Homo sapiens: one gene and its partners. The protein of the gene in region 1 purifies or fractionates together with the protein of each later gene. This does not show direct contact. Each region holds a gene or a part of one and is shown in the gene's direction. Other genes may lie near its edges. The genes, in order: BHLHA15, DHX57, LSM14B and SUPV3L1.

Evidence for each region.
Region 2: the proteins of BHLHA15 (region 1) and DHX57 purify together in Homo sapiens (affinity purification with mass spectrometry; 2 studies listed by BioGRID and IntAct, with this or other methods). This does not show direct contact.
Region 3: the proteins of BHLHA15 (region 1) and LSM14B purify together in Homo sapiens (affinity purification with mass spectrometry; 2 studies listed by BioGRID and IntAct, with this or other methods). This does not show direct contact.
Region 4: the proteins of BHLHA15 (region 1) and SUPV3L1 purify together in Homo sapiens (affinity purification with mass spectrometry; 2 studies listed by BioGRID and IntAct, with this or other methods). This does not show direct contact.

What each region holds. Positions count from the first base shown.
Region 1 is NC_000007.14:98,206,956-98,214,438, forward strand, and holds the start of BHLHA15 (class A basic helix-loop-helix protein 15), read left to right. Parts: upstream 1-4,483; 5' UTR 4,484-4,543; intron 4,544-5,300; 5' UTR 5,301-5,354; coding exon 5,355-5,924; 3' UTR 5,925-7,483. UniProt on the Homo sapiens protein: Plays a role in controlling the transcriptional activity of MYOD1, ensuring that expanding myoblast populations remain undifferentiated. Repression may occur through muscle-specific E-box occupancy by homodimers.
Region 2 is NC_000002.12:38,858,923-38,865,950, reverse strand, and holds part of DHX57 (putative ATP-dependent RNA helicase DHX57), read left to right. Parts: intron 1-2,431; coding exon 2,432-2,590; intron 2,591-3,617; coding exon 3,618-3,806; intron 3,807-4,113; coding exon 4,114-4,952; intron 4,953-7,028. UniProt on the Homo sapiens protein: Probable ATP-binding RNA helicase.
Region 3 is NC_000020.11:62,125,468-62,132,495, forward strand, and holds part of LSM14B (protein LSM14 homolog B), read left to right. Parts: intron 1-758; coding exon of another isoform or gene 759-836; coding exon 837-972; intron 973-2,117; coding exon of another isoform or gene 2,118-2,234; intron 2,235-3,457; coding exon of another isoform or gene 3,458-3,565; intron 3,566-4,317; coding exon 4,318-4,485; intron 4,486-4,751; coding exon 4,752-4,829; intron 4,830-5,062; coding exon 5,063-5,224; intron 5,225-5,888; coding exon 5,889-6,039; intron 6,040-6,888; exon of another isoform or gene 6,889-7,028. UniProt on the Homo sapiens protein: mRNA-binding protein essential for female fertility, oocyte meiotic maturation and the assembly of MARDO (mitochondria-associated ribonucleoprotein domain), a membraneless compartment that stores maternal mRNAs in oocytes.
Region 4 is NC_000010.11:69,175,644-69,183,233, forward strand, and holds the start of SUPV3L1 (ATP-dependent RNA helicase SUPV3L1, mitochondrial), read left to right. Parts: upstream 1-4,590; 5' UTR 4,591-4,648; coding exon 4,649-4,919; intron 4,920-6,876; exon of another isoform or gene 6,877-7,011; intron 7,012-7,590. UniProt on the Homo sapiens protein: Major helicase player in mitochondrial RNA metabolism. Component of the mitochondrial degradosome (mtEXO) complex, that degrades 3' overhang double-stranded RNA with a 3'-to-5' directionality in an ATP-dependent manner.

The sequences.
Region 1 (7,483 bases):
AGCCCCAGGTTCTCTTCTGGCTTTGAAAGGGCCCGAGTGCTCCCAGTGTAGCTTCGTCACATCGTCACGAGCCCCTGTGGTCATGGGCGACCTCACACCTCCCTCCCTGAGTTCTGCTCTGACATAAGGAAGTCCTCGGTGGCTGGTGCAGCGCGGCTGTGCTGTGCTGGGGAGGCAGCCGTTCCTTCGGGGGTCCTTGGGCCTGCAGTCCCCTCATACTCACCCTTCACCCAACATATTTTCCGGTGCTGATATGTTTCCAGACTCCAGCGCAACCTGGGGTGCTCTCCAGACCCGTGCAGGGGCCGCCTGGGGTACACGGAAGGAAGTTGAGTCCTAGTGCAAAATGCAGGCGGACGTTGCCAGAGAGTGCGCAGCAAATGACCTTCATTGCCAGTTCCACCCTACTCCTCTCATTTTTTATACTAAGCAATAACTTTCCAAAGCAAGAAGTTCAGGATGGAGAGAGTCCCCTCCTGTGTAGGCATGGGGTGGATGCGGTGCCCACCTGGGCTATGTGGGGAGCACCACTGTCTCGGGATGCGCGAATTTTTTTTTTTTTTTTAATTAACAGGGCATTAGAAGATGATTTTGCCAAAATTGTCATGACTCTGAATTCTTGCTGTGGGGACTTCCTGAGTTTTCTCAGTTTTTACATCTAAGATTAGTCTTGGCTGAAGAGAAATGAGACGTGATTATACTACTTTTTCAATTGCAGGTTTAAGGAGTTCAGATTTAATGACCAAAGTCATACAGATCATGGAATCTGTCGTCGTCTTATACAGTGTCAGCCTCGAGTACATTTATTAACCTTTTGGGGCTGTCAGTTTTCCACTAGGATTAAGATTTTGGCCGGGCGCGGTGGCTCACGCCTGCAATCCCAACACATTGGGGGGTCGAGGCGGACGGATCACTTTGAGCCCAGGAGTTCAAGACCAGCCTGGGCAACATGGCGAAACCTCGTCTCTACTAAAAATACAAAATATATATATATATATATATACTAGCTGGGGCACATAGTGGTGTGCACCTGTAGTCCCAGCTGCTTGGGAGGCTGAGGTGGGAGGATGGCTAGAGCCCAGGAGATGGGTGTTGCAGTGAGCTGAGACCATGCCACTGTACTCTAGCCTGGGTAACAGCCAGACCCTGTCTCAAAAAAAAAAACAATTTTTTTCATAACATAATTCCCATTTTTATTTATTTTGAGTCACTCATAATTAATTGCCAAAAAAGCATTTTATACATTGAGTTGGGGGGTAGTGGATCTTAGTGTGGTGTTGCATGGAGGGGCGAGATTTTATATTTATAATCAACACGTGGGTTAACATGTTTTTTTGAAATCCAAGCAATACACAGGAAATTTAAGTAGAATAAAAATTGCAGCCCATTTTTGAAATGTCAGCATGTGCTGTGTTCAGTTCAGGTTTTTGTTGTTTGTTTTGTTATTTTTTAACTAATAAGTTGGTTATCAGTGGTGGGTTTTCAAAATGTACTTGTTCTAATAAGTTGTACAATGAACTAAATCAGTGGCATTCTCTAGATAATGTGGGGGAAGGTTAGAATATTTTCTGGCCTTCTATGGGGTAGCAACCCAGAATCAATCTGAATTAGTCCTGTTTTGGTGGAGTTTGTACATTTTAAATCCTATAACAAAAATAATCTAGTTTTCATTTCCTTACTAGCTAGATGCGAATTTGTCTTTTTGAATGACCCTGTCAATAAGCCAGAAAGGGCAACCCAGAAAAAGTGCTCCCCACATCCTTCTGAGACTTGGCCTGTGTGTGTGGACGAGAAGCCATTCACCGTAAGGGTGCAGAAAGCTCGACCAAGCCGAATTGCAAACAACGTTCGTTCTATTTTTAAATGTACAGGTTCGATCGTTTCTATAGAAATGGGTTTATCTAAGAAAAGTCTTGGTTTGTCTTGCTGCTGTAAAAGGCCTTTCCAAACCCCTCCTTTTATTCCTGTTTCCCGAAATAAGGTATTTGTAGAGTTAAGGACCTACTGCATGCCTGTCCCCAGGGCCCCGGTGGAAGGAAGGCAGCGCCTGCTCTTCCTTAACTCAGCCCATCATCTGAAAATTCAGAAGTGAACCAAGGGTTAGACGCCAGAGGTTGGGCTTCTGTTAGAGTGGCTTCAAAACATGAGCCTTATGGGAAGTAGCCTTAAAAAAAGAATGGGTATACGCAGTGACTTCCGATGGAAATCTCCAAAACAATATTCCTAAGTAGCAATGGGGTTGGCTCAAGTCTTTATTAACAAAGAACATTCTCTTTCATCTATAAAGAAATTCTTAAAGATGCATTGACAGTGTTGAATTACCAACAGCCTGTGAAGATCAGTTTGACCGGTGTGGACACGTGCTGGTTAAGCACTCAGGCCTACGTGGGCCGAGCGGGATCTTGATCATGGGGCTGGTGTATGGATCCACCGTCGGATTCCGTCTGCAGAGGAGGACGTAGGGGGCCGTCACACCCACCAGGCCTCCCTGCTGTGCTTTAACACAGGCAGAAGAGGTTCATGGCAATATAATAGTCAATGAACTTTCAGTTTAAATTGTGTACATTTTTAAATTGTAAGATTTTTACTGTATATTGATGCATAGTGTGATTCAATAAATTGCTTGTAATTTAAAAACTATTTAATATTCAAAATAAATATAGTTATATATTTATAAACTCTGTTGGCCGCGTTTCTTCTGTGTTTTGTCCACCGTGCAAGGGCCACCTGGGTGGGTGGCCTGGCCCTGCCCTGCTGTGAGCGCCCGCAGCCTGTGTTCCAGGCCCCTGCCCTGGTCCCTCTGGAGCTTGTGTGACAGACCTAAACTCCCCGCACTCCTGAGGACATAAAGCTTTGTATAACCACTGGAAAACCAAACCTGTTTAGTGTTCCTGCCACCTTGAAGCATGTCTATAAACCATGCCTTTGCACTCATGAATTTCGGAAGCATTTTCATTTCCAAGGACCTCATTTGGCCCAGCCTCAAATGAGCTTTAGGCCAAGAGAAGAACTAACTAACCTTGGCTCCAAGCTAGCCTTTCTGTGCCCGCCCCCCGCCCCACTATGGCCCCTCTGAGTTCCCACCCAGAGGTACTGAGACAGAGCGGCGAGACCCATGAGTGTGGAGCCCAGGCCTGCCAGCCAGCGTGACACTCACCGCACCCCCAGCAGCGTGCAGTCACCGCACCCCTAGCAGCCCCGAATAGTCCCTGAGCAAGATGCTGCTTTGGCTGGGCGTGGTGGCTCACGCATGTAATCCCAGCACTTTGGGATGCCGAGGCGGGTGGATCACTTGAGGTCAGGAGTTGAAGACCAGCCTGGCCAACGTGGAGAAACCCCGTCTCTACTAAAAATACAAAAATTAGCTGGGCGTGGTGGTGCATGCCTGTAATCCCAGCTACTCGGGAGGCTGAGGCAGGAGAATCGCTTGAACCCGGGAGGCGGAGGTTGCGGTGAGCCGAGATCATCTCGCTCCATTGCACGCCAGCCTGGGCAGCAAGAGCGAAACTCCGTCTCAAAAACAAACAAACAAACAAAACAGGCGTTCCCAAGGACTGCACACCTGCCCAAGGAGCCCCCCACCCCCACCCCAACTCGGGCTCCGCCCCCAGCCCGTAGGAGCCCCAGGTTCCCCTAAACATCCCGGGCGGCGGGGCGGGGGATCCCCTGGGAGATGCCCGCGTTTTCGCGGAGCGGCTCGTCCCGGAGTGCTCCTGGGACTTGGGATCTGTGTGCTGAGCCTGAATCGGGGCTGCCCCTCCTTCCGGCGGCTCCCAGAGACCTGTTTCCCATTGGCGGAATGGGCCCGGGCCCCGCCACGAGTGGAGAGGCCGGGCAAGGAGGATCGCGGGAGGCATGGATGCGGGGGTGCTGTGTCAGGGGGAGGGTCGGGGAAAGCGGGCGGGGGGAGGCTGTCTCGGGCACGGATATGGGGTAGGCGGGTGGGAAAGGCGCGAGTGGAAATTGAGGGGGAGGATGGGGAAAAGCAGGTTGTGGGGAGGCTGTCGGGGGACGGGAGTAGGGGAGGTGGGGACGCAGGCTGTCTTGGGGGGGCTGTAGCGGGAGAATGGGGAGAGACGAATGGGGGGAAGCTATCTCGGGGCGGTTGGGGGGCTGTCGGGGGAGGATGGGGAGAAGCGTGTGGGGGAGGCTGTCTGGGGGAACGAGGGTCGGGGGCTGTCGGGGGATGGTGGGGAGAGGCGGGCGGGGGTGGCTGTCTTGGGGGACGAGGGTGGGGGGCAGTAGGGGGAGGATGGGGAGAGGCGGGCGGGGGAGGTTTTCTATCTTGGGGGCGGGGCGGAAGCTGGGGGCGGGGCTGCGCGGCCACCTGGTCCGGGAGCCCCAGGCGCCGGCCTCCCGCCCGCCCGCCCGCAGGTGCCGCCACTGCTGCCCAGCGCCCGCCGGGACACCCGGACCCCGGCCCCGCCCCGGCCCCGCCCCGAGGGCTCATTTGCATGCGTCCGCGGCCCCTCCCGGGGCGGCTAAAGCGACGTGTCCTTGTCCCCCGTGGGCAGCCTCGGCGCGTGTGGCCGCGGATCCCCAGGTAACCCGGGAGCTGGGAACTCGGGTGGGGCCGCGGGGAGGGGACCCAGGGGCAGGACCTGGCGGTGGGGTTGTGGGGGTTGTGGGGGCTGTGGGGAAACCCGGGTGGGGGACTTCTGGTCTGTCTGGAGGCTCCACGGGGCCCATCCACGTGGTGGGATTGGGGGCTGCCGCCAGGCCCTGGCCATTGCCGACCTCTGACCTCCACGGCTGCCCCATGTCCGCAGCGGTTCTGGCCCCAGTGCTGTCCCATGTCCGCAGCGGTTCTGGCCCCAGTGCTGTCCCTGCACGTGTCACGTCCAGCGGGGCAGGACAGTGAGAGCCTGGTGGCTGGAGTCACTGCCCGCCCACGGGATGAAGTCAGTGCCGCCTCCGGCAGAGGCGCCCCCTAAGCTAGGGTGGGGGACGCATTCTAGGCAAAGTGTCAAAGGTCACCGAGCTCAGGAGGCACTCTGGGGGCAGTGAGGGGCATGAGCCAGAGGAAGATCTAGGGGTCAGGATGAGTCATCCTGGGGGAAGGGGGACGCAGGGACAGGGACAGATTCCAGAGGTCTGTTTGAGGTAAAGCAAGGGCGTGGGTGTGTGTGGGGTCAGCCCAGGGCTAAGCGTGTGAACAGAAGGACCTCCAGTCGCAGAGCGCCAACCCCTGCCCCTGGTACCATTGCTGTCAGCAAGGAGGAGGCTGCCAGGGACGGCACCCCAGCGGGTCCCCTGCCCATGTGGGGTGACCACAGAGTGTCCTGTGTTCTGGATTTCAGCTCCAAGGGCCTCACCTTCCTGCCGCCACCTCCTAGGACAGCCAGTCCAGGGCCATGAAGACCAAGAACCGGCCCCCACGGCGCCGGGCCCCGGTGCAGGACACAGAGGCCACCCCCGGGGAGGGGACGCCCGACGGGTCCCTGCCGAACCCGGGGCCAGAGCCGGCCAAGGGTCTGCGGAGCCGGCCGGCCCGGGCCGCAGCAAGGGCTCCGGGCGAGGGCAGGCGCAGGCGGCCAGGACCCTCCGGGCCCGGTGGCCGTCGTGACAGCAGCATCCAGCGGCGGCTGGAGAGCAACGAGAGGGAGCGGCAGCGGATGCACAAGCTAAATAACGCCTTCCAGGCCCTGCGTGAAGTCATCCCCCACGTGCGCGCGGACAAGAAGCTCTCCAAGATCGAGACGCTCACGCTGGCCAAGAACTACATCAAATCGCTGACGGCCACCATCCTGACCATGTCCAGCAGCCGCCTCCCAGGCCTGGAGGGGCCGGGCCCCAAGCTCTACCAGCACTACCAGCAGCAGCAGCAGGTGGCTGGGGGTGCGTTGGGGGCCACGGAGGCCCAGCCCCAGGGCCACCTGCAGAGGTACTCCACGCAGATCCACAGCTTCCGAGAGGGCACCTAGCGCCCAGTCCTGGGTGGGGGTGGCGGTGGCCGCAGCTGCCTGGCCTGCTCCTCCCAGCCCCAGTCCCTCCAAGCCACGAGCCCCAGATGGGCGGTGACACCCCACAAGGACACGGCCTCAGCGGTTCCATTTTCCCCCGAACATTCAGCCACTTCCCTGGAGCAATTTTTCCTGCCCCGCTGGGGACCAGCGAGTGGCCTAGTTGCGGCTGTGGCCCTGGACAGCGGCGTGAGGCCCAAACCTCTAGGTAGGGCCCAGTTGGATCCTGATTTTTCATTGAGCCAGGCAGTCTCAGCCCGAGTTGAAAGGCCTCCTTAGCCTTGGAACTAACGTCTCTTCACCCTGACTTCTGGGCAAGGGGAGATCCCAGGAAAAGGTTTACCTGCAGGTTTTCCAAGGCCAAAGCCCCAGCAAGGACCCCCTCTCCAACCTTTGTTATAGGGCTACATGGGGCCTGGGCTCAGCATCCTCATTTGGGGTAAACTGAGGCCCGGGACAAGCCCGGCAGAGCCTAAGGCTGCTCGGGGAGTGGGGCCAATCAGAGATGATTGGAGCTGCCAGAAACTCTAATCAGATGACCTCCAATTCATCCTTAAAAGTTGAATGGTGGGGAGGGGCTGGAGTCTCTTCCTCCCTCCTCCCAAGTTGGGGCTCCTGGATGTGTTGACTCCAGGCTGTGCCTGGTTGTGGAGGGTCTGGGGCAGGGTGTGAGGGGTGCTGTGGAACTGGAGCAGGAGACAGGGCTGGGTGTTCCTGGTGCAGCCCTTCTGGGCATGGGAGAGAAGCCCCAAGGCCCTGGGTTGCTCCCCAAGAGCAGCTCTGAGGCCTCCTGCTCAGCCCTGGCCTGTGTGGGGAGCGAGTGTGCCCCCCACCCAGCCCCTGCCACCGCCGTTACTTATTCTCACTGATGTGGGGTTATCATATAATTGGCACCATGCTGTCTGTAGGACATTATGACGTGCTTGGGTTCTGGTTTGAGTTGGCAGCCCGTTGGGTCTCTCTGCCTGGTGGAGCCTTGGGGTGGCAGGTACGTCCCTTCCCCCGCCCAGGTGCTTCATCCTCATGGCCAGGCCTGGTGGCTTGGCACGTCTCTGCTGCCCCAAGCCCAGCTTCCTTCTGCTGGGCGTTCCTGCCCCACTGGCTCTGCCGGACTTGGCTACTGGACTCTCCCCTCCCTCATGCCTCTGCCCAGAGATGTCCCAAAGGCCCTCAGGGCCAAGCCGGGCCAGGGATGTGGCTGCCACAGCTGAGACCAAGGGCTCTGGCTGGCCCGTCCCCACCAGGTGGCCCTGCCCTCCCCAAGTTGGGGGTTGTGGCACTTGGGGTCAGGCCTAGCCACGTAAGGACACAGGTAACACCCTGAGGATCTGGCATTGGCAGCTTCAGGCCTAACTTTCCTGGTCAGGGCCCCTTAAGGTGGCCCGGGCACATTGGTTTCATTTCGATGAGACTTTGTCAGAGGCCTGGTCTGGTCCTGGCCCTACCGCCCCAGCTGTCCTTCAGCACAGCTCGGGGTGGGGACTCCAGGATGCTGGGTCTGCCCCTTGGGAGGGGCACTC
Region 2 (7,028 bases), on another chromosome or scaffold:
ACTCAATAGCATTGACTGGGTGTGCTTTGTAGAGAATAAACTATAAAGGGGCATGAGTTGAAAGCAAGGAGACCAGTTAGGAGATGTTCTCCAAGTGTAGATATAAAATAGATAATTTAATATATAAATCTGAGGTTCAAGAAAAAGATCTAGGCTGGAGATGTAAATGTGTGAGTCTTCTATAGATAAATGCTAAAGTTCTGAGTCTGGATAAAATCGAATAGAGAAGGTATCTGATGTTTGAGCCCTGGGACACTCTAGGTTTTAAAGCTAAGAGAATTTGGAATGTTCCCAACACAAAGAAATGATAAATGTGTGAGGTGTTAGATATCCTAATTACCCTGATTTGATCACTACACATTGTATGCATGTATCAAAATAGCACATGTACCCCTGTATTAGTCCATTCTCACGCTGCTATAAGGACATACCCAAGACTGAGTAATTTATAAAGGAAAGAGGTTTAATTGACTCACAGTACCACAGGGCTGGGGTGGCCTCAGGAAACTTACAATCATGCTGAAAGGGGAAGCAAAAGCATCCTTCTTCACAAGGTGGCAGGAGAAAGAAGAATGAGAGCCAAGTAAAGGGGGACACCCCTTATAAAACCATCAGATCTCGTGAGAAGTTACTCACTATCACGAGAATAGCATGGGGGAGACTGCCCCCATGATTCAACTACCTCCAACCGGTTCCCTCCCATAACATGTGGGGATTATGGGAACTTCAATTGAAGATGAGATTTGACTTGCAGCCAAACCATTATCAACCGTATAAAGAATGTACAATTATTATGTGTCAATAAAAATTTTTAGTTAAAAAATAAATAAAGCTAAGAGAAAGTATGAAAAACAAAGGGGATTGAGAAGGAGCTGCCAATGAAGTAGGAAACTAAGAGAGTGGTTTTTGGAAGCCAAGGGACAAAGGTGTTTTAAAGGAGAGTAGCCAATAAGATCGAATTGTATGCTTAAAGAGGGTACACATTTGTGGAAAAATGCTTCTGGTAGGTCAAGGAAAATGTGCACTAAGAATTGTCCACTGCATTTGACAATGTGGGTATCATGGTTAACCTTGACAAGAGCTGTAGTAGCATAGGAAATACTGATTGGGTTGTGTTTCAGAGAGAAGAGGAAAGAAAATGGAGACAGAGACAATGATTTTGATAACCTAAATGAGAAGTTTTACTATAAGGGAGCTAGAGGGAGGAGAGATGGGTCAGTAGCTACAGGGAGATGTGCACTCAAGGGAGGATTTGGCTTGGTTTCATTTTTTTAAGAGGGTAGACCTTATAGTATGTCTGTATGCTGATGGGAATGATCCAAAGAAGAATGAAAAACCAGTGATTTAGAAAGGGGGATAAGTGCTGGAATGATTTCCTTGAGGAGATTAAAGAGATTGGCATATAGTTTACAAATAGAAAGGCTGACTTTAAGATAAAGGATGACTTTAAGATAGGAGCATGTGAAACTCCCAACTCCCCCTCATGTTTAACTGATCATTTCCTAATGATCAGACAAATCATAAGAGATTATATATGCTGTGTAATTTTTTTATTTCTTTTTTTTTAAATAGAGACAGGATCTTGCTATATTGCCCAGGCTGGTCTCGAACTCCTGGGGCTTAAGCAATCCTACCACTTCAGCCTCTTAAAGTGCTGGAATTACAGGTGTGAGCCAATGCCCCTGGCCTTTTTTTTTTTTTTTTTAATAATCAGAAATAAAGATAATTGGGTATTTTAGAAATGGGGCCTTAATATTCACAAGGAAGAATGAAACTCAGTGGTTTTCAGATTTTAATGCAGAATGAAATGAAATGCTCTTCATGTCCTATAGTGCAGAGGAAACCATCATTAGCATTGCTTTTTCCTAAGGATTCTTGAGTTAGTGAAGCCAGAATTAATGATTAAGAATCTGTTAAGTTTTGTTGTTTTTTTTTTTTTTAAACGGAATCTCGCTCTGTTGCCCAGGCTGTAGTGCAGTGGCACAATCTTGGCTTACTGCAACCTCTACCTCCAAGTTCAAGTGATTCTCCTGCCTCAGCCTCCTGAGTAGCTAGGATTACAGGAGCGCACTGCCACGCCCAGATAATTTTTGTATTTTTAGTAGAGACAGCATTTCACCATGTTGGCCAGGCTGGTCTGAAACTCCTGACCTCAGGTGATCCGCCAGCCTCGGCCTCCCAAAGTGCCAGGATTACAGGCGTGAGCCACTGCGCCTGGCCAAGAATCTGATAAGGTTTTTTTCCAGCAGGTCTGATATAATGAAGTCTGGTAAATACTATAGAAAATGGAGAATCTCCTCACATTCATTGTCATCTTTTGTAAGATACTTGACAATCCAGTTTGTATTGTGTATATCTGGGGACCCCTGAGGAGAGTGTAAAAGTTCTGATTGAAGATATGTGTGTAATTTTGCTCTTTTGTTCTCTATAGACCTAGCAACAGTAACATAAGCAAAGGAGAGTCACGCCCAAAATGGAAACCCAAAGCCAAAGTACCCCTTCAGACTCTACATATGACTTCTGAGAATCAAGAGAAAGTGAAAGCTCTTCTCCGAGACCTGCAAGAACAAGATGCTGATGCTGGATCTGAGTAAATTGTTTTATTTGAGTCAATTATTATATTAAGGAAAACATACTGGCAGTGTGAAGGTCCTGTGCATCTTTGGAATGCTGTGTCAGTACTGATTCTATTGTGGCCATTTAATTAGTTGAAAGTGAGCCAAGAGTAATACAAGAATAATTATTCAGCCACAATTTTAGAGTGAGTTTGTTTTGCAACATCCATGGGATTGCCTTTTTATCTTTATTTTTTTCCAGGGCAGTGCTCATATGGATTCAGTAACTGATTTATCTGTAACCTTCCAGATAAACCCTTGTAATGAACAAGTAGAAGTAGTGTTGAATGAGCAAATATTGACTCGGTCAGGTGCAGTCTTAGGATTTGCTTGTCATGACTGTCTGCCTAAGAGAAAGCTTTTACTCTTAAATCTTATTCGTTTCCCACTCTACTGCATTTCGGCTCTTTTGCTTTGGATTTCAGTTGGAGAAGTTAATTCCTTCTTTCCATTTACCAAAATTAATTAGTGGCCAGTCATGAACAGCTCATTTTCCATCCTATCTACAAATCTCTTATCTGTTTTAGATTTAGAAAGGGAGATTATGTAGCAAAACAAACAATTAGGGATAGTGTTTTTATGAATGAGAAGAGAGAGAATAGCCAAGGTTTCTGTGGTTAAGAACACAGGAATCTGTCTGCCTTTGGCAAAATCTCTATTTGCTCCTTAATGTGTAACCTAGGCAGTTACTAATCCTCTCTGAGTTTTAGTTGATCATCTAGAAAAAAAAAAAAAAAAGGACATTCCAGTAGTATTTGGTACAGTTATTGGGAAGATTAAAGGAGTTAGTTCATATAAAGCACTTAACACAGTAACTGGTATTTAATAAATGCCTGGTAAATGTTAATTGCCAAGATATAAATTAATAGTTCAATATAAGATTAAATCAGCAACTGAAGAGTAGTCAGGATCCTATGAATTAAATTCTTAGACCTTTGCTAAATTTTTCTTTGAAGTAAGTAGAAAGTAATATCTAATATATGAAAATGTTGCCTTTGCTAGAAGAGGCCTTTCTGGGGAGGAGGAAGATGATGAGCCTGATTGCTGTAACGATGAGCGGTACTGGCCAGCTGGACAGGAACCTTCCCTCGTTCCCGACTTGGATCCTTTGGAATATGCTGGCTTAGCCTCAGTGGAGCCTTATGTTCCAGAATTTACAGTCTCCCCATTTGCAGTGCAAAAACTTTCCAGGTGATTGCTTTGATCATTTATGGGAGTTGGGAAAGAATTCAAGGAAACCGAAATCATATAAACCCACTACCCCTCTTTGTGTACTTTCCTATTATGTGGGTTCCAGCAATGCCTGATAGGCCTAATATTCTATCTTATCAGAAGGGGTCATTCAGGGGGGCTTATTGTTATCAGGGATGCTTTTTCAAAATACAAGCCCTGCCTATGTGTAGTCATAACTTCATCTAAGCATATTTAAATGAATTTTACTGTAATGGTGTGATACTGCTTTTTATGTGTCATTTTTGTCATGTTTTGCCCTTGACAGGTATGGTTTCAATACTGAACGCTGTCAAGCGGTCCTGAGGATGTGTGATGGAGATGTGGGAGCATCACTAGAGCATCTCCTTACCCAGTGTTTTTCAGAGACATTTGGAGAGAGGATGAAGATCTCTGAGGCAGTCAACCAGATAAGCTTGGATGAGTGTATGGAACAGCGACAGGAAGAGGCATTTGCTCTCAAGTCCATCTGTGGAGAAAAATTTATAGAAAGAATTCAGAACAGAGTCTGGACCATTGGGTTAGAACTGGAGTATCTGACAAGTAGATTCCGCAAATCCAAGCCAAAAGAAAGTACCAAAAATGTACAAGAGAATTCACTTGAAATCTGTAAATTTTACCTCAAAGGAAATTGTAAATTTGGATCAAAATGCAGATTCAAACATGAAGTGCCCCCAAATCAAATTGTTGGAAGAATAGAAAGAAGTGTAGATGATTCTCATCTTAATGCTATTGAAGATGCATCTTTTTTATATGAACTTGAAATTCGATTTTCTAAAGACCACAAATATCCCTACCAAGCTCCGCTCGTGGCATTTTATTCCACCAATGAGAACCTACCTCTGGCTTGTCGTTTACATATTTCTGAGTTTCTTTATGACAAGGCCTTGACATTTGCGGAAACTTCGGAACCTGTCGTATATTCTTTGATAACCCTTTTAGAGGAAGAGTCGGAAATAGTCAAGTTACTAACGAATACCCACCACAAGTATAGTGACCCTCCTGTGAACTTTCTGCCAGTACCCTCTAGGACCAGAATAAATAATCCTGCCTGTCATAAAACAGTGATTCCAAATAATTCTTTTGTTTCTAATCAAATTCCAGAAGGTATGTAAGGCATTGATCTTGTGGAGGGAGGCATTCAGAATGATGGGTTTAGAAGTCAAAGCCTTTAAGGCTGGTCTAGGATGGCTTAGTGATCTTGAACAAGCTGAACAAGCCATTAAGTCCCAAGGGCAAAAGGGAATGAGAATTCCCTGAACTGTAATTGTATCTGACTTTAATTGTAAGGCTCAATTGTGTTGCTGTGGTTGGGCTCCCTGAGTTGAAAGTTTGTAGTGACGTATGTTTAACTATATAAAATCCGAGGCTTGGAAGGACCTTAAGGTACGTTCTCAGAAAATCTGTTTTATTTAATTCATTTGGTTTTCTTTTGTTTACTTCTTATACTGTATACTGAATTACTTTCAAATGAATTTTTAGAGATATTTTGCTTTCTATACCACTATCCATACCCTCCTGCTTTTGGTGTACTAGACCCCCAGAATTCTTTAGGGATAGCTCTATGAATCCCTAAATCCTCAAATACTTGTGCAGGCTTCTAGCTTTGTCTAGATCTAGGTTTACTGTGCAAATTCTTTTTATTTTTATTTTTTTAAGATGGAGTTTCACTCTTGTCCCCCAAGCTGGAGTGCAGTGGTATGATCTCAGCTCACTGCAACCTCTGACTCCCAGGTTCAAGCGATTCTCCTGCCTCAGCCTCCTGAGTAGCTGGGATTACAGGCACCCGCCACCACGCCTGGCTAATTTTTCTATTTTTAGTAAGACAGGGTTTCACCATGTTGGCCAGGCTGGTCTTGAACTCCTGACCTCAGGTGATCCGCCTGCCTTGGCCTCCCAAAGTGCTGGGATTACAGGCGTGAGCCATCGCACATGGGCTGCTATGCAGATTCTTACACCACAAGTAAGCCCCTTTCAAAGAATTCTCTGCTGGGTGTGGTGGCTCATGCCTGTAATCCCAGCACTTTGGGAGGCTGAAGTGAGAGCACTGCTTGACCCCAGGAGTTTGAGACCAGCCTGGGCAGCATAATGAGACCCCATCTCTAGAAAATATATATATTTTCTTAGCTAGTCAGCCATGGTTGTGCACTCCTCTGAGTCCCAGGTACTCAAGAGGCTGATGTGGGGGAATCACTTCAGCCTCAGAGGTAGAAGCTGCAGTGAGTCATTGCATTTCGGCCTTGGAGACAGAGTGAGACTCTATTTCTTAATTAAAAAAAAAAAAAAAAGGATCCTCTTTTATTGGTTGCCATCTATCTTTCTTCCAGAGAAACAAAAGTTTGTATTATTTCATGAGAGTCCTTGGGTAAACTTCAATGAGTAGAGAACAGTGACACTGTTCTGAGATGTGGCTGCTGGTCATTTAGCCAGATTCACTCACTAACCACCCGACCCACTCCCAGATGGCAGCTTCTAGCGCATGGGATTCAAATGTGTTCCTTGGGAAATGAAAATTATGTGTCATGCACTTTTTTTCTAAAATAATAGTTTTATTGAGACATAATTTATATACCATAAAATTCACTCTTTTAAAATACACAATTCAATGGTTTTTAGTATTTTTATAGAATTATGCAACAATAACCACCTTTTAATCCCTGGACGTTATCATCAACCCCAAAAGAAACCCTGTACCCATGTACCCATAGCAGTCTCTCCTCATTTTCCCCTTCCCCCAGCCCCTCATAACCACAAATCTGCTGTCTATCTCTATGGATTTGCCTACTCTGGACATTTCATAGAAATGGAATTACACAATATGCAGCTTTTTGAGATGGGCTTCTTTCACTTAGCTAATGTGTTCAAGGTTCATCCGTGTTCTAGCACATATCACTACATCATTCCTTTTTATTAGTGAATAATATTCTATTATGTGGACATACCACATTTTGTTCATTGATTCATCATTTGATAGATATTTGTGTTGTTTTACGTTGTGGGATTTGGGGACACTTGCGTACAGTTGAAACATTCACTGCTAATTCTTTTAATGCTAATTACTTTGTTTGTGCTTGATAAAAGTTTATTTGAGGATGCATTTTAAGTTCTTTAGAAATAGAAATACTAGAAATGAATGAACTTACTTTATTCAAGTTTTCACTTTTTCTCCATTTTGACTTTTTG
Region 3 (7,028 bases), on another chromosome or scaffold:
GCAGGGACTGCAGGGCTTGCCCTCGGGTTACGCCCAGTCGTTACATGCTGCTGTTATACAACACCAGATTTGCAAGTCTGATGCCATGTGCCTGCTTATTGGGTTATGGCTTATTTTGCCCATGCTCCCCCAGGGAGCCCAGATTAATATTTTCTTCACTTCTAAATTTAAATATTCACTAGCTCCTCTGGGGTTCAGACTGCATTAGGTTCTGTGCTGAGCACCCATCCTGGAAGGTGGGATCACACAGGGCCGGCTTTGGGAGCAGTGGGAAGCCATCCGATGGCTTTGAGTTAGGAGAAATTTGGGTTAGAATTACATGGACAAGACACCTGTAATCCCAGCACTTTGGGAGGCCGAGGTGGGCAGATCACCTGAGGTCAGGAGTTCAAGACCAGCTTGGCCAACATAGCAAAACCGCGTCTCTACCAAAAATACAAAAATTAGCTGGGTGTGGTGGTGGGCATCTGTAATCTCAGCTACTCGGGAGGCTGAGGCTGGGAGAATCGCTTGAACCTGGGAGGCAGAGGTTGCAGTGAGCTGAGATCACGCCATTGCACTCCAGCCCAGGCGACAGAGCAATACTCTTTCAAAAAACAAAAAACAAAACAAAACAAAAAAAGGAATTACATGGACAGGTGAAACTGGAACTGAAATGCTGTGGAAAAGGCAGCTCTCACCATACTGGAAACTTGCACCCCAAGGGCTCCTCCAGCATCTCAAGGGTGCAGGCTGATGGGACGGTGCTTGTTTCCCAGCTGAACAAGCGCCCTGATGAAGGCGTGCGGGGTGATGGGATGGCCTTCGCCGTTCTCACCCGATGTCTCGTTGTTCAGTCTTCCCTGGGTTCTGCCTCCGCCTCGCCCTTCCAGCCGCACGTGCCTTACAGCCCTTTCCGAGGGATGGCGCCCTACGGCCCGCTGGCGGCCAGCTCCCTGCTCAGCCAGCAGTATGCCGCCTCCCTGGGTCTAGGTGAGTGACCTGTTTCTGTCTGGTAAACTACCCTTGCGTGTAACTGTCACTGAGTGGAGCGATGGAGCCTGAGGGTGGGGATATGCATTCCTGTCATGCTCAGCTTGTAGACTGTTTTGTTGCACACTTAGTAAATTACCCAGTGCAACTTCCGCTTGTGAGAGCATTTAGTAACTACTCAACTGAAAGTAAAAGAGGCAGCAGCCTGAGTGTTGGAACAGAAGAATCAAATCAAAATTCATTCGAAGAGTCAGGGCGGATCTAGGTGGAAGTCCTGGGCCAGGCATAGTGGCTCACTCCTGTAATCCCAGCACTTTAGGAGGCCAAGGCGGGTGGATCACAAGGTCAGGAGTTCGAGACCAGCCTGGCCAACATGGGGAAATCCTGTCTCTACTAGAAATACAAAAATTAGCTGGGTGTGGTGGGACACACCTGTAATCCCAGCTACTTGGGGGGTTGAGGCATGAGAATTGCTTAAACCTGGGAGGCAGAGGTTGCAGTGAACTGAGATTGCACCACTGCACTCTAGCCTGAGCGGCACAGTGAGACTCTGTCTCAAAAAATAAATAGGTGGAAGTCCTGGTATATCTGCTTCAAAGAAGAAATAGCTGATATATATGTAGTATTACAGATGAAGTCTAGCTGTTTGCACATTTATAAGCCTGTAAATATAGACGTGAAATACAAACCCACCCATCATGTCCCTTATTCTACTGTAAGTGCCTCGCTCAAAAATGGTTTCAACCAAGATTGAAAAACCCCAGAGTATGATTCTATTCTCCATATGTAGAGAAAGATCCTGCCTTGTCCTTAACCTGGACCTAGCTTTGCAGATGGGCTCAGAGTGTAGAATTGGCAGGTGATCCACGACCCTTGCTCAGAATCCAGCATGAAGTAGTGAGACAGGGAACCCTAAACGAGGTCTGTAGGCCACTTGCTGCTACAAATCATGCTTGCTTGGTTGCTATTCCTAGTGTGACAGGCGGCCTTCCCAGCCCAGCTCTCTGGGTTTCTAAAACGTGTTTGTATGACAGAATCCTACAAGAGGTTGCTTGGCTCTTTCCAAGCTTGCTAGACACAAGACAAGTGTATCCTGACTTATTTGTGTGCTTTCTTTTTGCTCTTTCTCCTTTATCTTCCTTTAGAGAAGTTGGTAAGCCCTCCAGCCTCAGCCGCTGCTTCCAGCCCTAGCTCTTCTCCATCTCCACAGCCCGTTTCAGAGCTTGACTTGTCCTCAGAGCCACAGCAGCTCACTGCCAAGGGTAACAGCAGTTTGGGAGAACTGCATGCTGTCTTGCAAACCATTCTGAGAGCGAGGGGTAAAGCAGCAGACAGAATGACAGTAGCTGTAGCAGATCATTTGCCAAGCCCATGCAGCCGCTGAGCTGCTTGTTTTGCTTCAGCATGTAGTCCTGATTGATGAACTCTCAGTGTTAAAGAAGGGATTACGAAGAATCAGCGGAGTAGTTTGTTCTCTCTCCCTGGGTCCAGGTTCTCTGTTGACCTGTACCATGACTACCACATACGGGAAACTTCACTGTTCACAGAAAGTCATTTCCCTGGGGTTTTTGCTGGGTCCTAAATGTGTTCCAGAGTGCTGCAGGGGGGACTCCCCAAAGCACCTGACATGCCTGTTTTGCTCTTTGATCCGTGTGGTTCATAGATCACTCATTGAGGGGATTCAAAATTAGGGGCTTGGGTGACAGTCGCCAACTGTTTGGCCAGGTGGACAGTATCAGCCTGATGGCCAGCTGGCCAGTGTACACCACCTGTCTCTGTGCTGTGGTGGTGGCGGCACCTGTGGGGTTTCTAGATCTTTTCTCACGTTCTACTCATTTCCCCTGAAGTTCTAAAATTCATATTGACGATCTTGCTGTATGTTTGTGTTACACATAGCACCCTGACAAGCTGAACCATCGCCATTACCCGGCCCTGGTCCAGGTTGATGCCTGGGCTTTCCTTATGGCACACAGCTGCTGTCAGTCTGTCATTCTGCAGGTGCTGCTTTCCAAATCCTGCATGCACTCTGTGTATCTGAGTTACAGAGTAGTCTTTTTTTTTCCCCCACTTAAAAATGACACAGATACTTCTATTGCTCTTAGGATCAGTTACCTAAACCTGCTCATAGGGCAAGACTTTGTTTGAACTAGTTGGTTGTGTAAAAAGCAGACAAGCCCCTTATCCATGCCCCTGCAGTCACAGTATGATCAGCAGGCAGGCAGTGCTGTGTTTGTCTCCCGGACATGCTGAGTGAGACAATCAGTGAGAAAGTGGCCCGGGTGCATTCCCGCCAGAGGACACTTTCCAGACCTCTATGCAGAGTCGTTCCAACCTGCCCTTTGAGAGCTTCTCTTGATCTGGTTACAAGGAATTTTTCTACAGTCAATTTTTTTTTTCATTTCTATTCCGTAAAAGCAGTAAGATGAGATGCCCAGTCTTCATGTGTATTGGGCTGTTCGTCTAATAATAATTACCCTGTGGTTAGGGTGCCTTTTCTGTTTCAGATCTCTGTTCACTTACACCCAGTCCCACATTGTCCTGTTTAGAGTCCCTACAGGTCCTGGAACCTTGGAAAGGGAGGAGATGGAGAGAGGTGGGTGGTGCTTCCCATTTTCCTCCTGATTCAGAGGGCCTGGTTTCTGAGGGTTCATCCCCTGTGCGTGGGCCTCGGACTGCAGTTTCATAGGCATAGCCCCTTGCCAAAGGCTACCTAGGAGCCCTTTGTGTCTTCATGATGAGCCTTTGCCCTTGAGAGAAGTGTAGGCTGCTACGTCTCGGAAGTCAGCTCCTGCTTCATCATTTTTAGTTTTATTGTGCCTTAAGTGGAAATGACAGTGTTGTAGAATTTAACTTCAGAATTTGTTCACTGCATTTTCTAGAAAATCCCAGGCTGGGCTGGTTCTTCTCCAGTGTGGACCAGAATGAAACAAATTCTCAGATCCTGAATTCATCAGGATCTTGGGGCTGCTGAGCTCCTTTGGGATTGGAGCTTGTGTGGTTTTAAGAAAGCTGTTTCCACACTTCTGGGGAGGTGCCTGTTTGTAGGCACGGTGTTTTTCCTGTCCTTGAGGTTCCCTAACTTGGGAAGCTCAGGGCTTTGGGAGTGGGGAGTCCAAAGATGAACTGGCCTTGGTGCTGCCCAGTGACTCTTGGCCTTCTTTTGCTGCCTGGGCTAGCCTCAGAGGGAATGGCCCAGTCTGGGGGTGCTTTGCCTGGATTTGATAGAACATCTAGGCAGTTGCCCTCCTTTCCTTCCTGACATGCCAGCAGAAGAGAAATGCCTGGAGATATAAGGCTTGCTTCTTTTCTCTCTGTTTTTAAACCCTCCTCCCCTCCTCAATTCAGGAGCTGGTTTTCCATCCATCCCAGTCGGCAAGAGCCCCATGGTGGAGCAGGCTGTGCAGACTGGTTCTGCTGACAACCTGAATGCTAAAAAGCTGTTACCTGGCAAGGGCACCACAGGGACGCAGCTCAACGGTCGTCAGGCCCAGCCGAGCAGCAAGACGGCCAGCGGTACTTGAACACATCATTTCCTGGAGTTTGCTTGATGTTCTAAAAGTGGCACACTACTTCCTGGGCTATTTTTTTTTTTTTAATTAAAAAAATACTACTCCCCCATCCTAAGCCCCATGTGCTTTTGCAGGGCAGGCCTGTGCAGCAGCCTCCTGCGGTGCCGCCCTGGCCGCGTGCCCCATGGTGGTGGGGCCTGCTTCCACAGCTGGGTTCTGGCTTCCGGCTGCTATAGGAGCTTTGCCTTACTCTTCCCTTTTGCGCCGTAGATGTAGTCCAGCCGGCAGCTGTGCAAGCTCAAGGGCAGGTGAATGACGAGAACAGAAGACCTCAGAGGAGGCGATCAGGTAACACCTGTTGCCACTTGATTTCTGGGGACCACGAGTGATCAGGCTGAGCTCTGCTTGCCCTCCTGCCTGCTTCTCTGGTTGACGGTTTCAGGGGTGCTGGTGTGAAGTCGCTGCTTGTGTGCTCTGTTCCTTCTGTGGCCTTGGGGGTGTGCCTGGAAATTCCTTGTGAGGTGTTTGAGATCACTGGGTTGGTGACCTACTTCAGCCAGGGCTGTCCTTTGTCCTCACAGGAAACAGGCGAACAAGGAATCGCTCCAGAGGGCAAAACCGTCCAACTAACGTTAAGGAAAACACAATCAAATTTGAGGGTGACTTTGATTTCGAGAGTGCAAATGCCCAGTTCAACCGAGAGGAGCTTGACAAAGAATTTAAGAAGAAACTGAATTTTAAAGGTTTGGCTCATTATATGAAAATTATTCTCTGCACAGGAGTACCCCTAGAGAGTGTTAGGAGGAGATGCCTGGCCGGGTGTGGTGGTTCACGCCTGTAATCTCAGCACTTTGGGAGGCTGAGGTGGGTGGATCACCTGAGGTCAGGAGTTCAACACCAGCCTGGCCAACACAATGAAACCCCATCTGTACTAAAAATCCAAAAATTAGCCAGGCGTGGTGGTGGGCGCCTGTAATCCCAGCTACTCGGGAGACTGAGACAGGAGAATCGTTTGAACCCAGGAGGTGGAGGTTGCAGTGGGAGTGAGCCAAGATTGCGCCACTGCACTCCAGCCGGGCGATAGAGCAAGACTCTGTCTCAAGGAAAAGGAAGAGATGCCTAGAGGAACCGGGGATGCCAGGCGGATGGTGACCGGCAGTGAGGAATTAATGAAGTGAGGTGCTGGGAGGTGTGAAAATGGGTGGGATAAGGTGCAGACTGCACAGCCCAGACGGCAGAACGAGACCTGTACTTAGAAGGTAGAAGAAGAGATTTCTGCTTTGCACAAGGCATAGTTGATGTCTTAGCTTGAGGGTGGCTTCCGAGTGAGCCCGGAGGGACCACCCTGCTAAAAGGCTGTGCGCTCTGCCCCTCCTCCATCTCCACGTGTTCTGCTTCTTTTTGTAGATGACAAGGCTGAGAAGGGGGAAGAGAAGGACCTGGCTGTGGTGACCCAGAGTGCCGAAGCGCCCGCTGAGGAAGACCTTCTGGGGCCCAACTGCTACTATGACAAATCCAAGTCGTTCTTCGACAACATCTCTTCTGAACTCAAGACCAGGTGAGAGGCTGAATGAATGAGGGGAGGACAGTCCTCCAATCTAGAAAGGACAGGGCTGAGGGCTCTCAACCTGAGGGCAGAGCTGGACTCTGAGGCTCAGGGTAGCTGTTCTAGGGTCCTGCTTGCGTTTCTGCATGATGGGTGCCGGAGTCCCAGCAGGTTGCGTGTGGGAAGCCTCTTGGGGATCCCGACCCGAGGAGTTGGCTGAGGTCGAGCCTGTTTCCTCTTGGCTTTGCTGCCCTGTCCCCACAAAGGCTGGGCTGCACCGCCCCCCCCGGCAGACCCGTGTCCACATTCAGCATACCTCACGGTGCTCTGCTTGCTGGTCCCGCTGGCCTGGCAGCCTGAGGTCCTTGCTTAGCAGCCTGAGGTATGGCTAGAACGTGCTCACACTGGCTTTCCTTCACTTCATTGTTTGAGGCCAGGGACCATGTGGTGTGTTTTATTTTTCACACCTAACAGCTGGTCAGAAGTCCCGCGAAGCACCCTAGGGAGTGGGTGGCATCTACAGTGTGGGCCTGGCTTGGAAACTTGGGCCCATTTGTCCTGCAGATTGAGCGCCAGACATGCCGCGGGGCGTTGAGGGGGCCTCAGAAGGCAGGCTGGAGAGCGCCACCTCTTCAGGTTCATGTTCTGCCAGGGGAAAAATAGAACAGCATGTCGTGAAGGCCAGGCAGTGAGGGCGATGGGATGGGGCTGTAACTCGATGGGAAGTGGATGATCAGTTCTCACAGGCAGAGCAGGCTGCGCAGATGAGTGCGGGAAGTGCTTCCAGACAGGCCGAGTCTGGGGGATGGGTTCCTGTAGGGTTTTGTAGGGCATGGCAGTGACTTTGGCTTTTGTTCCAAGTGCCGCGGGAAGCCATCAGAGGGTTTTGTGCTGAAGCGTGGTGCGGTCTGATGTTTTACGGCGTCCTTGGTGAGAGTGGTTGGACGGTGGGCAAGTGTGGCTGCTGACTGGCCAGTTAGGGGCCAGTGCTGCAGCACAGG
Region 4 (7,590 bases), on another chromosome or scaffold:
GACAAATAAGGGAATAACAGCTGGCTGCCACCCCCCAACCCCAGCCCCCAGCCAGCAGCAGCAACCCGCTTGGGTCCCCTTCCATGCTGTGGAAGCTTTGTTCTTTCGCTCTTCACGATAATAAATCTTGCTGCTGCTCACTCTTTGGGTCCATGCCACCTTTGAGAGCTGTAACACTCACTGCAAAGGTCCACAGCTTCATTCTTGAAATCAGCAAGACCACGAACCCACTGGAAGGAACAAACTCTGGACACATCGTGGTCCACCTGTCTTGGCCTCCCAAAGTGCTGGGATTACAGGCGTGAGCCACCGTGCCCGGCCAAGAGTAAATCTTAAAAGTTCACTTAGGATAAGCAACAGTTTAGCGTCTAGATCATGATAACCTTAATGTCAGAAAAATACTAGAAACTTCAACTTACAAAATTTGGTAGACAAGGTATGAGAGAGTAATCTACAGGATGTGCTTTTGTGAAACCTACACCAGATTTTGTTAATAGCAAAAGCAGGCCGGGCGCGGTGGCTCACGCCTGTAATCCCAGCACTTTGGGAGGCCGAGGCGGGTGGATCATGAGGTCAGGAGATCGAGACCATCCTGGCTAACACGGTGAAACCCCGTCTCTACTAAAAATACAAAAAAAATTAGCCGGACGTGGTGGCGGGCGCCTGTAGTCCCAGCTACTCGGGAGGCTGAGGCAGGAGAATGGCATGAACCCAGGGGGCAGAGCTTGCAGTGAGCCGAGATTGCGCCACTGCACTCCCGCCTGGTGACAGAGCAAGACTCCGTCTCAAAAAAAAAAACAAAAAACAAAAAACAAAAAACAGCAAAAGCAAAGGCGAAGAAGAAATTAACTTGTATTATTTCTGCCACCTAGGTTATCTTCTCCCACTTCCTTTCCCCTTCTATTTATTTCCGTATTCATGCATGGATTTAGCATATTTACAGACTATCAGTTAGTGCTTGCTATGGTTTGAATGTGTCCCCTAAATTTTTTGTGTTGGAACTTAATCATCAAATTCATATATTGATTGGAGGTGAGGCCTTTGGGAAGTAATTAGGATTAGATAAAAGTTCTCAGTGTGGGTCCCCCATGATGTGACTGGTGGCTTCGTAAGAAAAGAGAAACCTGAGTTGACACACAGGTCTTGCTCTCTGGCCATGTGATGCCTTCTACCAGGTTATGTCAAGAGGGCCATCACCAGATGCCAGCCTCTTGATCTTGGACTTCCTAGCCTCCAGAACTAAAAGAAATAAATTCATTTTCTTTACAAATTACTCAGTCTGTGGTGTTCTGTTATAGCAATGCAAAATGGAGTAAGTGTTATCTTGGCCCTATCCTGAAGGAACTTTAATCCAGAGCAGTGGTTCTCAAAAGTGTGGTCTCAGACCAGCAGAGTTGCATCATCTGAAATGTTTTAGAAATGTAAACTCTCAGATCCCACTCCAGATCTACTGAATCAGAAACTTCAGGGATGGGGCCCAACAATCTTGTTGCACTCTAACGTTTAAGAACCACTGACCCAGAGACACAATTACGATAGTTTTCATTCTATGATAGAGCCTCTACTGGGACCTGTGATATGTAAGAGAAGCACCCAGTGTGTTCAGAGGTGCAGAGGTAAGAAACGATGATATAACTGGTGTATAGTTCCAGCATGAATAGAATGGTAGATGTGGGGAGTAGAAATAAAGCTGGAAGAGGCATATAGGGCCAACCAATTTAGGACAGAACCTGGATGCCATACGATGGAATATGGGCTTTATCTGAACATTTATTCAGAATCACCAAAGGACTCTAAGCAGGAGTAACTTACCAGATTTGTGTTTTCAAAAGATCATTATGGTGCTACGGCAAAGTATAGGAGGATACCAGTTACATAGTTACTGCATTAATCCATTCAACAAGCAAAATAAAACATTTATAGAGGCTCTAATATGTGTTAGGTGCTGATTACACTTACTGCTATAAATATGACATAACCAGTATAGATATGACATCTTTTTTTGTAAAAGCAAAAATTTTATATTGAATTTTCCCATTTCAATGTTTATAGTAGAACTTAATGAATGGCTGAAAGGGAAAGCCTGTATGTGCTATCATAAAATTCAGATTGCATTTTCTACCTGCAAGGAGGTGCAAACAAAATTACAGTTAAAATAGTTTTGAGGATTTTTTTTTTCTGTAAAACTATACTAGGGTTGGGCTAGATCTGTAAGACTAGTAACTGCCAGGTGCTGTGGCATGCACCTGTAGTTCCAGTTACTCAGGAGGCTGACACAGGATTGCTTGAGCCCAGGAGTTCACGATCACCCTTCCAAAGAAAAAAAAAGACTCGTACAAATGTTGATTCTGGCCTAATATGCTGCTCCTGTCCAAAAAGCCCACCTATTTGCTTTGAAATCAGAAAGACTGGCTGGGCACGGTGGCTCACACCTGTAATCCCAGCACTTTGGGAGGCCGAGGCAGCTGGATCACTTGAGGCCAGGAGTTCTGAGACCAGCCTGGCCAACATGGTGAAACTAAAGAGAATACAAAAATTAGCCAGGTATTGTGGTGCAAGCCTGTAGTCCCAGCTACTCGGGAGGCTGAGGCATGAGAATTGCTTGAGCCTGGGAGGTGGACGTTGCAGTGAGTTATGATTGCACCACTGCACTTCAGCCTGGGCAACAGAGTGAGACTGTCTCAAAAAAAAGAAAAAAAAAAGATTTAGATTTGTATCTGACTCTACCACTTACTGGGGCAAGTTAGTTAACCTGGTGACAATAATACCTCTAAATTGTTGTCAAGCATATTAAAAGATTAAAAGGAACAACATAGTGCTTGCCTCAGTTACGTATTAAACGTTTGGTTTATCCTTCATTCTCCTAGTTTCCAAATCTGACGAGACATCATTGTTTATTAACATTTTCTAGCATATTTAGTCACTCACTACATTATCTAAGGAGTCTTGTAAAACCTCTCATTCCACATACATGGTCTCCATCATAACTCAGACACAGGAATCTACCACCTTCAGCTAGAACTGTTGATAAAGTTGTAATTTTCCTCCCTGCATATTTGTGTTTATCCTAGTCTATCCTAGGTACTTCCTAATGAATGATTTCTCTTCTCAAAAATATAATCACTATTTGTAAGCCATAGAATTAGGTCTGCGTTAACTCTGTTACTTAAATTTTTTTCAGTATGTCTTTTCCTTAGTTAAGCCTCTGCTTACATCGTTTCCACTGACTAGAATTTACTTACCGCTTCTCTATGTTTTACTTTTAAGTCTGGCAGAAATCTCCTTACCACTCTCAAATTGCTCCTTTCTTTGAACTGCCATTAGTCTATTAGAGTAATAAGTGCATTATTTAACGTGTACTGTTCTTACCACCAAAACCAGATCAGAACCTTTGAAAGCAAAGGACTGTCTCCTTGTATCCCTGATGTTTAAAAATTATTTTGTGAATCAAAGGCACGTGGCAAATTGTTACTGGAATCCTATTAGACATACAGTATTGTATATTACATAACACGTTCCTTCAAGTTGTAAGATCTTAATGATGTAAGTATAAAGAGATGTGGATGGAGATGCTAAACTTGTGAATTTTTTTTTTTTTTAGACGGAGTCTCACTCTGTTGCCCAGGCTGGAGAGCAGTGGCCCGATCTCGGCTCACTGCAACCTCTGGCACCCAGGTTCAAACGATTCTCCTGCCTCCGCCTCCCTAGTAATTGGGATTACAGGTGTGCACCACCACGCCCGGCTGATTCTTGTATTTTTAGTAGAGAGGGGATTTCACCATGTTTGCCAGGCTGGTCTCGAACTCCTGACCTCAGATGATCCACCGGCCTCGCCCTCCCTAAGTGCTGCGATTACAGGCGTGAACCACCACGCCCGGGTTAAACTTGTGAATTTAACATGTTGCAGCCTCACATGAGAACACGGTATTCAACAAATGCAATGGAACGAAACTATGGCTGGGGTACAGAGCACGTATTTTTGCCATGTGGTCACAACTATGTGGTCATAGCTGCTAGGATGATGTACGCAAACTGCTCACATTAAAGCAAAAGTACTTACGTAATACAAGGGGTTTAATAGTGCAACAATATTTCTTAGCAACATTTCTGAGGGGCATATCAAGTTATTATCGCTAACGTTATCATATCAGGAAATGACGGTTAACAATGCAAGAAACTTTTGGGAAATGCTATTTAGTGTTTGAGTCCGCAAGACATACTCGTACCCTGAGCATTCGCAGTTGCTGCTCCACCACCCATTCTCTCACTGCTCACCCACGTGCTTCTGGACACTTGCTTACCAAAGTACTAGTTTGCATCACGTGACACGACTAGCAGGCCCCCTCCGCTCATGTATGACATCCCAAAGATGCCTGATTATTTTCCCTTCTTTAGGGAAAGGTGGTCCCAATCACCAACAAAACAGAGAAAGAGAACGAGAATTATCTCTAGTGGTTTTGCCTGCTAATCTTCTTTTTCCCTGAAAGAACACCCTCACGGCACGGCGTTTTCCTTAACGGTCAGGCGTTTTCCCGGGCAGCTTACCTGCTCGGCCTGGGTCTTTCTGGACAGCAGGCGCTGGAGGTGCGCGTCACTGTCCGCCGCCGTGTCCGCGGCTGCGCCAGACAGTGTAGAACCTGCGGCCTCGATGTCCTTCTCCCGTGCCCTATTGTGGGCTCGGCTCCCGGCGGGGCGCCAGGCTGGCCACCGGGCAGCCATCTGCTCTGCCCTTCGTCCCCACTTTGGGCCCTTTCCCGGGGTTCTGGGGCAAGTTTCTGTCCTTGCCACCGCCTCCTCCTCTGCCTCCGGTGGCTCCAAAATACCAAACACGTCCTTGTTCGTGCCCCTGACTGTGAAACCTCAGGGCCCCAGCGCCGACGGCGACGTCGGGGCCGAGCTAACCCGGCCTCTGGACAAGAGTGAGTGCGGGAACTACTGAGGGCGGCAGAGGGTGGTGTCTGCTGGGCCGAGGCTGGTTGGGAGGAAGCTACATCCCCTTCCCCTGGGGATCCGAGGTCCCATCGAGTGTTGTCATCGTGCCTCTCAGTGTCTGCCTCCTTCGCTGGTGTGTGAGCCCCTCAAACGGCTTAGGACTGTATCTGATTAATTCTTAACGCCTCGTCCCAGAAGCGGCCTTTTCCCTTTTACTGCCCTGCTCTCTGAATGGTTTAGACACTCATGTGTTGGGAAGATTTGACTTTTTTGAGTTGTTAGGTGGACGCCCGCTCTTTCTTGCATTCTTTGTTTCTCTCCCACCCCCGAATGGGATGTGGCAGTGAAAAGCCAGCGGAGACTCCTTTTAGGATTCTTTATCATTGAGGAGGCGCCGACTCATACCACGCTGTTAGGCTGTGTGGTGGTTGCCAAGAGGAACCAGACTCAGATCCAGATCCCCTCTTAAGAAACGTAACGGTATCGTGGGGGAGGACACGTGTATGGAAAGTGAACTGTAATACAAGGTAGAACATGACAAGGTCTAGAACAAGGTAGGGTGTCCCCGGCTCCAGAGAGAAAAGAAGAGGTAGCATCAGTTAGTGGCAGCGGGCTTTGCTCAGCAAAACTTAAGTTTGGATGGATTCGTTGACAGAGAGGCATGTGAATGTTTTCAAGGTGAGTTTCGGGATGATTAGGGAGGTAAGGGAGTTTCCTCTGACCATATGAAACTGGGAGATTGAGGAAATGCTATCCAGAATTGTCTCCAGGAATAGGAGGAGAAATGTCTCACTTCAACAAGCGACATTGGTGCCTCCTATTGTAAATCTAAAATATAGACTACAATATGTTTTTCAGAGCAGAAGTACAGTACTTTCACTAAACATGTGATGGAACTCACAGTATATGTTATTCTTTGACATATTCTTCCAGTGTTAAGCAAGGCCTTTCACTTTACTTGGTGCTGGGAGACTGTCTTTATTTTCTGCTGTTATAACATAATACCTGAGACTGAGTAATTTATAAACAATAGAGGTGTATTTGACTCATGGTTCTGAGCCGGGATCTGATGAGGGCCTTTGGCTGCATCATCACATGGTGGAAGGTGGAAAGGCAAATGAGCCTGTGAGACAGAGAAAGGGGGCTGAACTTATCCTTTTTTCCTGTGATAACTGACTCCTGTGATAATGGCATTAATCCACTCACAAAGGCAAACTCCTCATGTCCTAATCACCTCTTAAAGGTTCCACCTCTCAACTGTTAAAATAGCAATTAAATTTCAATATGAGTCTTGGAGAAGACATTCAAACCATAGCAGAGAATGTGTTATTTTAATAATGTAATTATACTATTATTTATTTTTAAATTATAAAAATACATAAAATTTACTCTTTTAAGCTTTTTTTTAGTTTTTTTTTCTTTACTTTTTTTTTTTTAGAGACAGGGTCTTGCTCTGTTACCCAAGCTGGAGTATAGTGGTATGATCATAGCTCACTGTAACCTCCAACTCCCAGACTCAAGCAATCCTCCTGGCTCAGCCTTCTAAGTAGCTAGGAATACAGGCGTGCATCACCATGCCTGGATAATTTTTTAATTTTTTGTAGAGATGGGGTCTTGCTATGTTGCCCAGGCTGGTCTCAAACTTCTGGGCTCCAGGGATCCTCCTGCCATGGCCTCCCAAAGCCCTGAGATTACAGACCTGAGCCACTGCACCCAGCCAGTCTTAATTGTTTTTAAGCACATAGTTCACTAGCGTTAAGTATATTGACATTGTCGCGAAATAGATGAGAACTTTTTCATCTTGCAGAGTTGAAACTCAAACAATAGTTTACCCATTAAAGAACAATTTTCCATTATTTTATATTATTTGAAGGCATAAGGTAATTTGGATGAGATAATTTGCCTTATTGTATTCAAATATTGATAAATTCTTATTTTCTGCAGCTATTCCAATTCACCTGAAAATGTAAATGTCTTTGCTGCTTCCTGTAAGAAGATAGAATAAAGACATGGGTTTGTCAGCACTAGATTTTCTTCTGGTGGAGAATCCTTAGATACTTCATTGGGTCTGTGTGCCAGGTGATTTTTCATCTCCTTTGACTGGGATTGGTCCAGATGTTGAATTTACTAGAATGATTTTTCAGCATGGCAGGAGGGGCTACAGAAGATGGTGCATTACTACACTCTGATATAGCCATGTGGTTAAGGTGTCAGATTTCCACTTAGCTTAGCAATCAGGACAAGAAGCTGTCACTTCTCAATCTCTTTTGCCTACTCATAACCCAAAAAGTTGAGGTACTTAAAGGCTTTGTCCTGCGTCACCTTGCTGCCTTATTCTGTGCTGTCTATGGGGTGTCTCATTCTCTCTCTCCCCTCACTAATTCAGTATTCCTCTCAGATCTTTGTCTCTACCCTGGACCTCTCTCCTTCACCCTGGACCTATATATCTCGCTGCCTACCAGGTGTCTCCACTTGTCTTTCTTACACACACCTCACCTTAGCATGTCAAGACAACTTACCTTCCCCTCAGCCTGCTCCTGCAGGTGCTCAGGTCAAAACCTGGTAGTCTTTGTTCTTCCATCCCTCACCCCTACATCTAACAATCAGAGAAAGCCCAGTTAATGAGTCTTGTTGATTCTACCTCATAAATGTTGGATT